2 linked regions of the Homo sapiens genome follow. The protein of the gene in region 1 purifies or fractionates together with the protein of each later gene. This does not show direct contact. Each region holds a gene or a part of one and is shown on either strand. Other genes may lie near its edges.

Region 1 (3,500 bases):
AGAGACATGTTTGAGTTGGAATTTGCTATCCCTAGACCCTCCTTCCACTTCCACTCTTTTTTGGCATGGGGACTTTTCTGTACTGCCTCCTTAGGAACTCAGGTCCCATCAAAATGTGGAAAGAACAATTACATTTGTTTCGCACATTTGCTTTTTTGATAGTTTCTGAGGAGAGTAGGAGGAGGGCAGGTTTTTCAAGGCTCCTTTAGGGATGCAAGTATGATTACCCCAAAAGGTTCCACCCCCTTCACACTTATCAAGGGTCCCCATAAGAGCCTGGCCTTTCACATATATTATCTCACTTACCAAGCACAGATCAGAGATGTTAAACAAGTAGCCCAAGGTCACACAGTGGGTGGTACATGTAGCAGAGCCTGGATGTGTGCTTCCTCCCTCTGGACCCTACCACCTCCCTCAGAGGTTTCACAGGGCAAGCTGGGACTGGCACTGAATCCTCAGGCCACTTAGTACCCTGTCATGGCCCTCAAGGAATCCGCACCCCAGGCAAAGCCTTCTTCTGAGGTTTGGGAGTGAGAGAGTGACTCCCCAATCTTCCTCCTGTTACCAGTGGAGGGTCTTGACTAAAAGTTGTCCTGGTTCCTGGCATTTTAAAGAAAAACTTAGTAAAAACATACAAACAAAGCAGCAAAAGAAAGAAGCAACGAAAGCATAGATTTATTGAAGTGAAAGTACACTCCACAGAGTGGGAGCAGGCTTGAGCAAGGGGCTCAAGAGCACTGGTTGCAGAATTTTCTGGGATTTAAATACCCTCTAGAGGTTTCTCATTGGTTAATTTGTTTACACCCTATGTAAATGAAGTAGTGGCCCACAACCAGTTTCACTGGTTGCAGGAGAGGACCAACTAGAGGTACTTTCCATGTTTCATCTGCAATGCAGTGGAAAGCGGGAGTTGGGGGCATAATTTGCAAAAAGGAGGAGCCTCTGATCCTTTTGTTACTTGACTGTGGAGAGGTGGAATTTTCCTTTTGATTCAGTTCCAGGAAGTGAGTGTGAATCATCCTTAGGTTCCCTGCCTCCAGGTCCTGTTCTTCTGCCTCACTCCTTCAGACCTGGGGCATCCCTCTTCTTGCCAGCCTGCTCCTCCCCTTGGTTCCAAGGGGGCTCCTGAAGGCTGCATTTGATCACTCAGCAGAACCTGAAGTGGGGAAGGCAGCCAGGTCTTGTTTAATTTCCTACAATATATTTTAGGACAAAAGTCTTGCATATCTTGTCAGAGTTTTCTTCATAGATTACCTGTCATCTGTGAATTAAGATAATTTTACTAATTTCTTTCTGATCCAGATGCCTTTTATTTCTTTCTGTTTTTTATTGCACTGGCTAAAACTTCCATCACAATGGTGAAGAGATTCTGCCAGAGCAAACATTCTTGTGTTTTTTCTAGTCTTGGGAATTCATTCAATCCTACACGATTAAGTATGATGTTACCTGTAAGTTTTTCATAACTGTTCTTCATAAGATTGAAGAAGTTTCCTTTTATTCCTAGGTTGCTGATATTATTAGAAATAGATGTCAGGCTTACCAAATACTTTCTCTATGTCTGTTGAGATGATTCTGTGTATATATAGAAATTTTAATTATTCTAATTGGCTTATTACAGTGATATATTTTTCAAAATTAAACCAACCTTGCATTCCTGGTATTTACCTATTAGTTCTTGCATTTATGTTTATATTGGTCTGTAGTTTTCTTTTATTGTAATGTTTTGCCTGTATATTACAGAGCTAATATATCCCTATTGCTGAGGCAATGTTCTTTTTAGTATTGTACTCAATGCCTCACGAATTATGATGTTTTCCCTATGTCTGGTGGGAACAGCAACTATTCCCAGCCCTGTAAGATCTCCAGGGATTGTTCCTTCTAATATTTTTGGGTAGCTGATTTCCCTGACTTAGGTGATTTCCTCACATGCATGTGCGGATCACTAGTCATCTGAAGACTTAATGGGGACCCTCTCTGTACAGTCCTCTCATGCCCTTTGAAAGCTAAACCCATTGGCTTCCCAGAACTTGGTTCCTTTTCCTCAACTCAGCTGCTACTGAGCGTTGCCTGGATTATTTTCCCTGCACCATGGCCTAGAACCTCTTTTCAGGCAGTAAGCTGGGGCAGTCATAGAGTTTGCATCATTGTTTTTCCGTTTCTCAGGTGTCACTGTCCTTCTTTGACTAATGCTCAATGTCTTGGAAACCATTTTGTATATTTTGTCCATTTCTCCAGGATTTTCAGGCAGGAGTGTAAATTAGTTCTATGTTATTCCATGGTGGCCAAAGTAGAAGCTCAGGATGCTGCTTTTTTTTATTTTTCCAAAGGCTTTAGTTTTAATTAGTGGAAATAATGGGCTATAATGGGCTTACTTTATCTTGGCTGCCCCTATTACTATCAAATACATAAATATAAACATACCAGAAGTTTTCTTAGCCAGATTAAGAGCATCTTCAAAAATCTCACAGGGAATATCATGTTAAATAATGAATCATTATAAGTATTTCCCTTATAATGAGGGAGAATAGAGGAGTGCTCACTATTACTGCCTTTATTTAGCTGGTAAATAAAATTTAATTTAGCCAATGCAGTGTGATAAGAAAAAATAGTAAAATATAATATTTGAGAATTGAAAAGAAGGGAACAAAGCATATTCATGAAATATCCACAGATGGTATCATATCTATTTTTGAAACAAAAAATATTTATAGATAAAATATTAGAATGATTGTAAAGTAGCATATTGGCTAGGGTTAAGGTTGATATTTACAAAACAATGGATTTAGCTTAGTCAGCAATATCAGAAAATGTAATCATCAAAAATTATTTTATAATGCCTAGAAAAATATTATTTACCTGGAAATAAATGTAAAAATTATTTGTTAACCATTTATGGAGAAAATTATTTTGCTGAAGGCATGAAAATGAGACATAAATCAATGTCAAGATATACTAATGAGTAGAAAAATTCAAAATTAAGACAATATTTCATGAATATACAGAAAAATATACCATTGGAATAGAACAGAGAGAGTAGAGACAGACTCACAAATTTCAAGATGTGACAATATCTTTGTATTAGTTTGTGCTATGGTGTGAATCTTTGCGTCCCCCACAATTCATATGTTTAAATCCTAATCTCCAAGGTGATGGCATTAAGAGATGGGGCTTTGATGGGTGATTAGATAATGAGGGCTCTACATAATGTATTTTCTTAGAAAAGTCCAGACTATGTAGTCTCTTAGGGGTAATAAAGTACCACTGACTGTTTGGCTTAAACAACAGAAATGCATTGTCTCATGATTCTGGAGGTTCAAAGTACAAGGTCAAGATGTCAGCAGAGTTTGTGACCTGTTAGGGCTGTGAGGGAAAGATCTGTTCCAGGACTCTCTCCTTAGCTTGTAGTTGGCCATGTTTTTCCTATGGCTGTTTACCTCATCTTCCCTCTGTGTATGTCTATGTCTGTATTTCCACCTTTTCTAAGGATATCAAGGGTATTG
Region 2 (3,500 bases), on another chromosome or scaffold:
ATCTCCAAAATAAATAAATACCCAAGCATGGTGGGGCGTGCCTGTAGTCCCAGCTACACAGGAGGCCCAGGCAGGAGGATCACTCTAGCCCAGGAGGTCAAGGCTGTGTGAGCCATGATCCTGGCACTGCACTCCAGTCTGGGCAACAGGGCAAGACCATATCTCAAAAAAATATATATGGTGGCAGAGGACAGTGGCTCATACTTGTAATCCCAGCACTTTGGGGACGCCGAGGCGGGTGGATGACCCAAGGTAAGGAGTTTGAGACCAGCCTGGCTAACATGGCGAAACCCCATCTCTAATAAAAATACAAAAATTAGCCAGGTGCAGTGGTGCGCACCAGTAGGCCCCAGCTACTAGGGAGGCTGAGGCAGGAGAACTGCTTGAACCCCAGAGACGGAGGTTGCAGTGAGCCGAAATTGCACCACTGCTCCTCCAGCCTCAGCAAGAGACTCCGTCTCAGAAAATAAATAAAATACAGAATAGCTAGCATATCCATTTACCTTTCGGGCGCATGTAATTAATAATTCAGAATGTTATGTACACTATGATTACAATGTGTATGGAGGAGTATATGTCAGAGTCCTTGCTGTGTCAGGACTCCGTCTACTGGCAAAGTACCCCCTGTGCTTGAGTTAAACCACATCCAGGAGCTCAGTTCCATCTCAAGTTCAAGATAGTCTTCAGTCAATATTGGGAAATTTATGGCCAGGCAGTGGCTCACTCCTGTAATCCTAGCACCTCGGGAGGCTGAGGCTGGCAGACTGCCTGGGCTCAGGAGTTCCAGACCAGCCAGGGCAACATGGTGAAACCCAGCGTCTACCAAAATACAAAAACTTGGCTAGGCGTGGCAGCGCGTGTCTGTAATCCCAGCTACTAGGGAGGCTGAGGCAGGAGAATCCCTTGGACCCAGGAGGTGGAAGTTGCAGTGATCCACCAGGCGGAGTTGCAGTGAGCCGAGATCGTGCACTGCACTCCAGCCTGGGGGAGAGAGACCCCGTCTCAAAAAATAAATGAATAAATAAATAATAGTCCGGGCGTGGTGGCTCACACCTGTAATCCCAGCACTTTGGGAGGCCGAGGTAGGTAGATCACCTGAGGTCAAGAGTTCAAGACCAGGCCGGGCGCAGTGGCTCACGCCTGTAATCCCAGCACTTTGGGAGGCCGAGGCGGGTGGATCATGAGGTCAGGAGATCGAGACCATCCTGGCTAACAAGGTGAAACCCCGTCTCTACTAAAAATACAAAAAATTAGCCGGGCGCGGTGGCGGGCGCCTGTAGTCCCAGCTACTGGGGAGGCTGAGGCAGGAGAATGGCGTGAACCCGGGAAGCGGAGCTTGCAGTGAGCCGAGATTGCGCCACTGCAGTCCGCAGTCCGGCCTGGGCGACAGAGCGAGACTCCGTCTCAAAAAAAAAAAAAAAAAAAAAAAAAAAAAAAAAAAAAAAAAAAAAAAAAAAAAAAAAAAAAAAAAAAAAAAAGAGTTCAAGACCAGCCTGGCTAACATGGTGAAACGCTGTCTCTACTAAAAATACAAAAATCAGCTGGGTGTGGTGGTGGGTGCCTATAATCCCAGCTACTCGGGAGGCTAAGGCAGGAGAATCACTTGAACCTGGGAGGTGGAGGTTGCACTCCAGCCTGGGCAACAGAACGAGATTCCATCTAAAAAAAATAATAATTAAAATTTAAAAAATAATAATCAGGAAATCCAAAAGCTTAAGGCTTCGAGCCCCAAATTCTGGCAGTTCAAATTGATGTATCTTATTTATACATCAGACATAAACTCACATTTTTATTTTTCTACCCCATTTTTCTGTTGATCACTACTGACATTAAAACTAGATACTGGGCCGGGTGCACAGGCTCATGCCTGTGACCCCAGCACTTTAGAAGGCTGAGGCGGGCGGATCACAAGATCGGGAGTTTGAGACCAGCCTGGCCAACATGATGAAACCCTGCCTCTACTAAAAATACAAAAATTAGGATAGGCATAGTGGCTCACACCTGTAATCCCAGCACTTTGGGAGGCTAAAGCAGGCTGATCACTAAGTCAGGAGTTCGAGACTAGCCTGACAAACATGGTGAAATCTAGTCTCTACTAAAAATACAAAAATTAGCCAGGCGTGGTGGTGCGCACCTGTAATCTCAGCTACTCAGGAGGCTGAGGCAGGAGAATTGCTTGAACCCGGGAGGCAGAGGTTGCAGTGAGCTGAGATCGCGCCACTGCACTCCAGCCTGGGCGACAGAGCAAGACTCTATCTCAAAAACGAAAAAAAAAAAAAAAAAATCAGGCGGGCGTGGTGGCGCATGCCTGTAGTCCCAGCTACTTGGAGGCTGAAGCAGGAGAACTGCTTGAACTTGGAAGGCAGAGGTTACAGTGAGGTGAGATCACACCACTGAACTCCAGCCTGGTTGACAGTTATGCCCCGTCACAAAAAAATACACTAGATACTAACTTTAATTACAACAAATAAGCAACCTATTTTAGCTGTAAACCAAATGCTGTGCTTTGAAAATGCAATTGCAGTAACAAATGAATAATCCTCTTATGTAATTATCATTTCTTCCCTTACAGTCACACAACTCAGATAAACTTAAATTGGATTTCTAAAAGTAAATTTCCAGATTCTAAAAATGGTAGAAAGTTATGAAATCAAATTAGGTAATTAACTGAAAATTAAATTGACTCAATAGAGGTTTGTCCAGGATTGGATACAAGCATCCTCACTAGTGTATCAAGAGGTTCAAGTCTGGGTCTGCCAACATAACAAATTCCTGAACTACAAGAATAATTTAAAGCCTGTGTATGTGAATGACCATATACTACATGCCATATTTTGGTATCTTTAAGTCCATTTCTTAGATTAAGTAGGTTATATTCATAATCTACCCTATCTTGGGACAACAAAGCCTAATTTTACACACTAAGCTAACAACCTTCCAAAGAGTACTTCTAGATCTTATCCATCAACGAGCTGGCTCTATTTGTCAGGTGCCTCCAGGCATTATCCACAATGTGCAAATACCAAGTGCAAAGGCCCTAGGACAGAAGCATTCCTATAGTTTGAGGAATGAGGACACCAAAAACTTCCATAACTTCTAAAGCACTGTAAGGATTTAATATTTTTATCTTCAGCTAAATGAGACCACTGGAGAGTTCAGAGCTTGATCTCAATAAGGTTTGTTTACCTTCCCTTCATATCTGGACCTAGGGCCTCTTCTGTACCCACCCGTAGACCCAAGTCTTTTGTCTTTTTTTTTTTTTTGAGACAGTTTCACTCTTATTGCCCAGGCTGGAAGGCAATGGCGTGATCTCGGCTCACCGCAACCTCCACCTCCTGGGTTCAAGGGATTCTCCTGCCTCAACCTCCCGAGTAGCTGGGATTACAGGCATGCGCCACCATGCCCGACTAATTTTGTATTTTTAGTAGAGATGGGGTGTTGGGAAAAAGGCTTATCGAGTGCCTGTATAAGCTGGCCATAAAAATATGGCACAGTAAGTT

What was found. Proteins that work in one complex are often made in the same cells at the same time.
Region 2: the proteins of FAM111B (region 1) and SLBP purify together in Homo sapiens (co-immunoprecipitation; one large-scale study listed by IntAct). This does not show direct contact.

Annotation. Positions count from the first base shown.
Region 1 is NC_000011.10:59,117,237-59,120,736, forward strand, and holds part of FAM111B (serine protease FAM111B), read left to right. Parts: intron 1-3,500. UniProt on the Homo sapiens protein: Serine protease.
Region 2 is NC_000004.12:1,705,820-1,709,319, forward strand, and holds part of SLBP (histone RNA hairpin-binding protein), read right to left. Parts: intron 1-3,500. UniProt on the Homo sapiens protein: RNA-binding protein involved in the histone pre-mRNA processing.